Linked DNA regions of Homo sapiens: all the other regions are linked to region 2. Evidence: fine-mapped expression QTL. A gene starts in region 2. Each other region holds a variant in brackets. All regions are shown on one strand. Distances are between the middles of the regions.

Evidence for each region. PIP is the estimated chance that this variant, and not a neighbour inherited with it, causes the effect.
Region 1: its variant is the best candidate, but not a certain one, in a credible set for the expression of ZRANB3 in neural progenitor cells (Aygun 2021, PIP 0.65).
Region 3: its variant is the best candidate, but not a certain one, in a credible set for the expression of ZRANB3 in lymphoblastoid cells (GEUVADIS, PIP 0.80).

Annotation. Positions count from the first base shown.
Region 1 is chr2:135,233,257-135,236,015 of GRCh38, reverse strand. All of the region lies in intron 12 of ZRANB3 (zinc finger RANBP2-type containing 3), which reads left to right. Among named protein-coding and RNA genes, the nearest start is that of SNORA40B, 98 kb to the right of the region's middle. The variant C/G (reference allele first, on the strand shown) is at 1,429.
Region 2 is chr2:135,529,666-135,532,424 of GRCh38, reverse strand. It overlaps ZRANB3 (zinc finger RANBP2-type containing 3), which reads left to right and starts at 1,207. Exons shown (of 21, transcript NM_032143.4): 1 at 1,207-1,298. It overlaps R3HDM1 (R3H domain containing 1), which reads right to left and starts at 941. Exons shown (of 27, transcript NM_001378107.1): 1 at 792-941. RefSeq lists a silencer at 775-964 and enhancers at 932-1,226, 1,195-1,464, 1,815-1,894.
Region 3 is chr2:135,444,596-135,447,354 of GRCh38, reverse strand. All of the region lies in intron 2 of ZRANB3 (zinc finger RANBP2-type containing 3), which reads left to right. Among named protein-coding and RNA genes, the nearest start is that of ZRANB3, 85 kb to the left of the region's middle. The variant G/TG (reference allele first, on the strand shown) is at 1,149.

The DNA.
Region 1 (2,759 bases), 300 kb after region 2:
TCATCTGCAAACAGGGACAATTTGACTTCCTCTTTTCCTAATTGAATGCCCTTTTTTTCCTTCTCCTGCCTCATTGCCCTGGCCAGAACTTCCAACACTATGTTGAATAGGAGTGGTGAGACAGGGCATCCCTGTCTTGTGCCAGTTTTCAAAGGGAATGCTTCCAGTTTTTGTCCATTCAGTATGATATTGGTTGTGGGTTTGTCATAGATAGCTCTTATTATTTTGAGATAAATCCCATCAATACCTAATTTATTGAGAGTGTTTAGCATGAAGGGTTGTTGAATTTTGTCAAAGGCCTTTTCTGCATCTATTGAGATAATCATGTGGTTTTTGTCTTTGGTTCTGTTTATATGCTGGATTACGTTTATTGATTTTCGTATGTTGAACCAGCCTTGCTTCCCAGGGATGAAGCCCACTTGATCATGGTGGATAAGCTTTTTGATGTGCTGCTGGATTCGGTTTGCCAGTATTTTATTGAGGATTTTTGCATCAATGTTCATCAGGGATATTGGTCTAAAATTCTCTTTTTTTGTTGTGTCTCTGCCAGGCTTTGGTATCAGGATGATGCTGGCCTCATAAAGTGAGTTAGGGAGGATTCCCTCTTTTTCTATTGATTGGAATAGTTTCAGAAGGAATGGTACCAGCTCTTCCTTGTACCTCTCGTAGAATTTGGCTGTGAATCCATCTGGTCCTGGACTTTTTTTGGTTGGTAAGCTATTAATTATTGCCTCAATTTCAGAGCCTGTTATTGGTCTATTCAGAGATTCAACTTCTTCCTGGTTCAGTCTTGGGAGGGTGTATGTGTTGAGGAATTTATCCATTTCTTCTAGATTTTCTAGTTTATTTGCATAGAGGTGTTTATAGTATTCTCTGATGGTAGTTTGTATTTCTGTGGGATCGGTGGTGATATCCCCTTTATCATTTTTTATTGCGTCTATTTGATTCTTCTCTTTTCTTCTTTATTAGTCCTGCTAGCGGTCTATCAATTTTGTTGATCTTTTCAAAAAACCAGCTCCTGGATTCATTGAATTTTTGAAGGGTTTTTTGTGTCTCTATTTCCTTCAGTTCTACTCTGATCTTAGTTATTTCTTGCCTTCTGCTGGCTTTTGAATGTGTTTGCTCTTGCTTCTCTAGTTCTTTTAATTGTGATGTTAGGGTGTCAATTTTAGATCTTTCCTGCTTTCTCTTGTGGGCATTTAGTGGTATAAATTTCCCTCTACACACTGCTTTGAATGTATCCCAGAGATTCTGGTATGTTGTGTCTTCGTTCTCATTGATTCCAAAGAACATCTTTATTTCTGCGTTCATTTCATTATGTACCCAGTAGTCATTAGGAGCAGGTTGTTCAGTTTCCATGTAGTTATGCGGTTTTGAGTGAGTTTCTTAATCCTGAGTTCTAGTTTGATTGCACTGTGGTCTGAGAGA[C/G]AGTTTGTTATAATTTCTGTTCTTTTACATTTGCTGAGGAGTGCTTTACTTCCAACTATGTGGTCAATTTTGGAATAGGTGTGGTGCTGAAAACAATGTATATTCTGTTGATTTGGGGTGGAGAGTTCTATAGATGTCTGTTAGGTCTGCTTGGTGCAGAGCTGGGTTCAGTTCCTGGATATCCTTGTTAACTTTCTGTCTCGTAGATCTGTCTAGTGTTGACAGTGGGGTGTTAAAGTCTCTGATTATTATTGTGTGGGAGACTAAGTCTCTTTGTAGGTCTCTAAGGACTTGCTTTATGAATCTGAGTGTTCCTGTATTGGGTGCGTATATATTTAGGATAGTTAGCTCTTCTTGTTGAATTGATCCCTTTACCATTATGTAATGGCCTTCTTTGTCTCTTTTGATCTTTGTTGGTTTAAAGTCTGTTTTATCCGAGACTAGGATTGCAACGCCTGCCTTTTTTTGTTTTCCATTTGCTTGGTAGATCTTCCTCCATCCCTTTATTTTGAGCCTATGCGTGTCTCTGCACATGAGATGGGTTTCCTGAATACAGCACACTGATGGGTCTTGACTCTTTATCCAATTTGCCAGTCTGTGTCTTTTAATTGGAGCATTTAGCCCATTTACATTTAAGGTTATTACTGTTATGTGTGAATTTGATCCTGTCATTATGATGTTAGCTGGTTATTTTGCTCGTTAGTTGATGCAGTTTCTTCCTAGCCTCGATGGTCTTTACAATTTGGCATGTTTTTGCAGTGGCTTGTACTGGTTGTTCCTTTCCATGTTTAGTGCTTCCTTCAGGAGCTCTTTTAGGGCAGGTCTGGTGGTGACAAAATCTCTCAGCATTTGCTTGTCTGTAAAGGATTTTATTTCTCCTTCACTTATGAAGCTTAGTTTGGCTGGATATGAAATTCTAGGTTGAAAATTCTTTTCTTTGAGAATGTTGAATATTGGCCCCCACTGTCTTCTGGCTTGTAGAGTTTCTGCCAAGAGATCCGCTGTTAGTCTGATGGGCTTCCCTTTGTGGGTAACCCGAGCTTTCTCTCTGGCTGCCCTTAACATTTTTTCCTTCATTTCAACTTTGGTGAATCTGACGATTGTATGTCTTGGAGTTGCTCTTCTCGAGGAGTATCTTTGTGGCGTTCTCTGTATTTCCTGAATTTGAATGTTGGCCTGCCTTGCCAGATTGGGGAAGTTCTCCCGGATAATATCCTGCAGAGTGTTTTCCAACTTGGTTCCATTCTCCCCATCAGTTTCAGGTACACCAATCAGATGTAGATTTGATCTTTTCACATGGTCCCATATTTCTTGGAGGCTTTGTTCATTTC
Region 2 (2,759 bases):
AAAAACAAGCTCAACAGAGTCACCCTTTGCACCTAGTCACAGCAACAAAAGAAAACAAAACACCAAAAAACTTCAAAGCCCACAAAGATTTGTTGGCAGCCTAAGGCTCAGGAATCAAAACGTGTGTAAATCTGATCCCGGGGGACCGTGGCACTGACAGTCATTCAACTTTCTTTTTAATATTCCCATTGTGCTTTTTCTGGTACCACAGGGAAAATGTACCTACATTTTACCAACCGGTCGAAGCTGAAAATTCTCTTGGTGCAAGGCCAGGGGATGCGGCCGTGGGGCGGCCGGGGGAGCCCGGGGCACCGGCGCCAGCCACACGAGAGAGCAGTACCACGCTCTTGGCAGGCCTGCTGTGGCTGGCTCCCGAGTCCCTGGGGCTGCAAGAGCAGCCGCGGAGGCAGCAGCAGCAGCCATGGCAGGGACTCGGAAACCTTTCCCCTGCCTCCTCCGCTAGGCCTCGAGGGGTTTGCTTTTCACATGGCCCCCGGGTGGGGGCGGTGGGCACAAGGCAGTGGCTGCAGCTGCAGCCGGAGCCGCAGCCGCGGGCCAGGCGAGCCTGGCTCACTCGGAACCCGACCTAACGGCGGGCTGGCAGCAGCGGGACGTCAGAAGGCCCTGGCTGAAGCGCCGACGACCCGGCGGGGAAGGCCACCTTTCCACACACCACATCTCTCCCCTGCCTGCCTCCTTCTCCGTTAGCGCTACCGGTTGGCGGGCGGGGGAGGGGAGCAAGGCGCGTTATTCCCGGGGAGCTGGACGGGGGAGGGAAGGGCATCTCTTACCCGCGTTACTGAGGAGGAGGAGGCGGTTGGAGCGCGGCGCGGCGGGGCGACGGCGGGGCTGGGTGGGTGCAAGTAAGAGTCTTACGAAAGGGAATTAACCCCATCACCAGCCCGGACACCGGCTCCAGCGGCAGCCGCGGCTGGCAGAATCCCGCCCCTTCCCACCACGCACTAGCCCCGCCTCTTCGTTCTCTTTGAGCGGCAGCCGACTATTCATAGGTTGTACGTCCCCGGAGTGACATGAGTTTTGCCCAATCAAGCTTGAAAAAAACTGTCTTCTCTCCACCCCTTTACCTCCTCCCAGGCCGCGGAGAGCCGTGCCAAATCTTCCTCCAACCTCAAGAGAAAAAGAACCAATCCGTGGTAAGTAACCGCCCTTGAAGGACGCAAAAGCCAACCAATGGTAAAACTAGGAGGACAGCCATTTTGCCCACTTGTAAAAGAGCTACCTTTTCCCACGAGTTGGAGCCTGAGGTGCGGAGTTTCGTGAGTTTTTACTGACTCGAGGTATTTAAAAGACAACCAGATCTCCTCAGTGGGTATTTATAGTGCTTTTTAGGGGTAAAGGAAAATTATCCTCCATGTGGGGCGAAGTGAGGCATGCTGCTTAAGGGGTTGGCTCCTCCCCTTAGCGCTAACGGGTTCTGAAACGAACACCTGGTTTCTCCAGCTTCAGTGGCGGAGGGCGGGGTGATTGCTCTTTTCGGCCTGGAGCGGACTACGATTCCCAACATGCTTTTCCCCTACTCATAACTTCTCCTCCGTTCACTTGTCGCGGTGCTTGGCTGGAATTGTAGTTCCTGAGAGGTACCCATGCCGCCGCTTCAGCCAATGAAAAGGGACAGAGTTTTGAATGACTTGAAATTAGGGCGGAGAACGAGTTGTCGCGAGGCTGTACAGAGCCCTTTTCGCAACCCTAACGGGAGAGAAGTGATGGAAGAAGGGTAGCCGGAAGAGTTTCCTCAAAATACCATAGGGGTTTTAAATTATTAGTACGTATTTAAACTCATCTACTTTCACGTTGTCCCGTTGAACGTCACTTCCGCTTAGGGGCGGACACGTCCCAAACCTGTGGCGGGAGTTGGAGATTCTGCGGCGAATACGCCAGGTGTGACTGGCTGGAAGTGGCGTGGCTGGCAAGTCGCTAGTTTCTTGCATGGGAGATAAAAAGTTGAACGGAATTTAATGGCATTTTAAGAAAGAGTGGGTGACATGGGATGGGGGTAATTTCCAGGGCCCTTATTACTTTCTCCACCCCGGCCTTCAATCGCGGGCGTCTCGGCCTGCTCGCTATTAGATTGCACGGCTAAATTTGTAGAAAGTACCTCTACTGCCTTTAGTCTTCGCGTGGTCAGTTTGAACTGTAAAGACAGGGCTCCGAAGTTCTGAACTACATTTACAGACACACTTTTTTTTTTTTTTTTTGAGACGGAGTCTTGCTCTGTCCCCAGGCTGGAGTGCAGTGGTGGGATCTTGGCTCACTGATTCACGCCATTCTCCTGTCTCAGCCTCCGGAGTAGCTGGGATTACAGGCGCGCGCCACTCAGCCCAGCTAATTTTTTGTATTTTTAGTAGAGACGGGGTTTCACCATGTTGGCCAGGATGGTCTCGATCTCCTGACCTCGTGATCCGCCCACCTTGGCCTCCCAAAGTGCTGGGATTACAGGCGTGAGCCACCGCGCCCGGCCACAAACACACTTCTAAAGTCAGCTTGGAAGGAAAAGAGTCACAGAAAAGGGCTTTTCTGTTTGAAGGATTGATAATCAAGAGTGGCCCCATCACCACTCTTTGAGTAACGACCATTTATTAAACGAGTGGCAGACAGGCGCGGTGGCTCAGACCTGTAATCCTAGCACTTTGGGAGGCCGAGGCGGGAGGATTACTTGAGGTCAGGAGTTCGAGACCAGCCTGGGCAACATGGTGAAATCTTGTGTCTGCTAAAAACTCACACACACACATTAGCCGGAC
Region 3 (2,759 bases), 85 kb after region 2:
AACTTAATAAAGTGTTGGCCAGGCACAGTGGCTCACGTCTGTAATCCCAACACTTTGGGAGGCCAAGGCGGGCAGATCACCTGAGGTCAGGAGTTCAAGACCAGCCTGGCAAACATGGTGAAACCCCATCTCTACTAAAAATACAAAAATTAGCTAGGTTTGGTGGCGCGCCTGTAATCCTAGCTAGGAGGATGAGGCAGGAGAATCATTTGAACCCGGGAGGTGGAGGTTGCAGTGAGCTGAGATTGTGCCACTGCACTCCAGCCTGGGTGACAGACAGAGCGAGAGTCTCTCAAAAAATAAATAAAATAAAATAAAAAGGGTTGAAACAAGGAACCTAAAAAGACAGAAAAATAGAGGAAAGAAAATTAAACAGAACAACCCAAGAGGTTAAACACATAGCTAAGAGATACTTCATAAAGAGAAAATAAAATAGGAAAATTAAACATTAAATTGAAGGAATTATCAAATAAATTTCATAAGGAAAATTTTCACGTCTTATTTTTCCAGCTCACACCTTTTCTACTCCAGTTCCAACAATTAGTCAAAACACTACCAGGACCTACAATCTATTGATCCTTCCAAACGCTACACCTTTGCACAGTCTCTCACTCTCCTGATAGCCTCTTTTCTTCATACCTAGATTAAATTCCATGGTTAATCATTCTAATACTTTCCTCAAATACACTCTCAAATTTCTTGCTCCTTCTTATTTTCTGTCCTCATGTGGCTAGGACAGTTCTGGTTAAATCCGACTTTTCATCAAGCTTGTTCCTGTATGCCCGTACTTCTAATGGTGGTTGGAGAAAAACCTGCCAATTATTCTAGCTTTAAATCCATGCTCTGGCTGGCAGTCATACTATACTGCACTATTCATTCTCTATCATTCTCCATGACAACTATTTCTTTCTTTCTCCCATGTCCTCAAATTTCTAACACCTCCTCCTGCATCTTAACACCCAGTTGATGACACTGCTTCCTCCGTTTCCAAGGAAATGAAGCTATCAGACAAGAAGTATTATAAGCTCTCTATATCTACTCATGTCTCTGCTTTTTTACCCCTGTATTTTATCGTCTCCCCTAATACCCTGGATGAACTATCCGTCTGTTGATTCTGTCATACAATTTCTTTCTTTTTTTTTTTTTTT[G/TG]AGATTGAGTTTCGCTCTTGTTGCCCAGGCTGGAGTGCAATGGCGCAATCTCAGCTCACTGCAACCTCTGCCTCCTGGGTTCAAGCGATTCTCTTGCCTCAGCCTCCCAAGTTGCTGGGATTACAGGCACTCACCACTATGCCCAGCTAAGTTTTTGTATTTTTAGTAGAGACAGGCTTTCAGCATGTTGGCCAGGCTGGTCTCGAACTCCTGACCTCATGTGATCCACCCGCCTCAGCCTCCCAAAGTGCTGGGATTACAGGTGTGAGTCACTGCACCAGGCCGTGTCATGCAATTTTTTTTGTTTTTCTTTTCTTTTTTTTTTTTTTTTGAGATGGAGTCTTGCTCTGTCACCCAGGCTAGAGTGCAGTGGCACAATCTCGACTTACTGCAACCTCTGCCTCTTGAGTTCAAGCAATTTTCCTGCCTCAGCTTCCCGTGTAGCTGGGATTACAGGCACCCGCCACTGCACCCGGCTAATTTTTGTATTTTTAGTAGAGACAGGGTTTCACCATCTTGGCCAGGCTGGTCTCGAACTCCTGACCTTGTGATCCACCCGCCTCAGCCTCCCAAAGTGCTAGGATTACAGGTGTGAGCCACTGCACCTGGCCCTTGTCATGCAGTTTCAACCATTGCCTCCTATTATGTACTCAAGAACATTGCTCTGGCAATTCTATAGATTTTCTCCCACTCAATCCATTCTCTATTGATCGTTCTTATTACCATAAAAGCACACTATTTTCCCCTTTATTTACTTATTTATTTAGATGGAGTTTCACTGTGTCACCCAGGCTGGAGTGCAGTGAGCCATCTTGGCTCACTGCAACCTCCACCTCCCGAGTTCAAGCGATTCTCCTGCCTCAGCCTCCCCATTAGCTGGAACTACAGGAGTTTGCCAACATGACCAGCTAATTTTTGTATTTTTAGTAGAGATGGGGTTTCATTATGTTGGCCAGGCTGATGTCTAACTCCTCACCTCAAGTGATCCATCTGCCTCAGCCTCCCAAAATGCTGGAATTACAGGCATGAGCCACCATGCCCGGCCTATTTTTCCCTTTAAAAACAAAGCAACCAAACCAGCCTACTCTTGACTGCATATTCTCCTCCAGTTACCACTATATTTCTTTACTTCTTTACTGCAAAATTCCATGTAATAATTATGTGTATTTGTTGCTTCCATTTTTCAGGTCCTATTGTTGTTGGGTTTTCATGCTAACCATAACACCAAAATTACACTTACGGAGGCTACTAATACTCCCCAGAGTAGCTAAATCCAGTGATCATTGCTCATTTCTTATTTTATCAAAACTATTAGCATAATTTGAGACATATGTTTTCTTCTTTTTGATTGTACCCTCCCCGCCCACGCCTACCGCTTTAATAGCTTATTGCAGTATAATCTACATATAAAAAATTAACACATAACTGTATAATTTGTGTTATAAACTATACACAGTTTGATCAGTTTTAGCATCACTAGAATTCTTTTAGAATTTCCGTTTTACCAAAAAGTTTGTGCCTCTTTGTACTCAGTCAATCCTTGTCCCCACCTCCAGACCTAGTCAACAAATGATGTTGCTTTTTTTCCTTCTTTACAGTTTACCTTTTCTA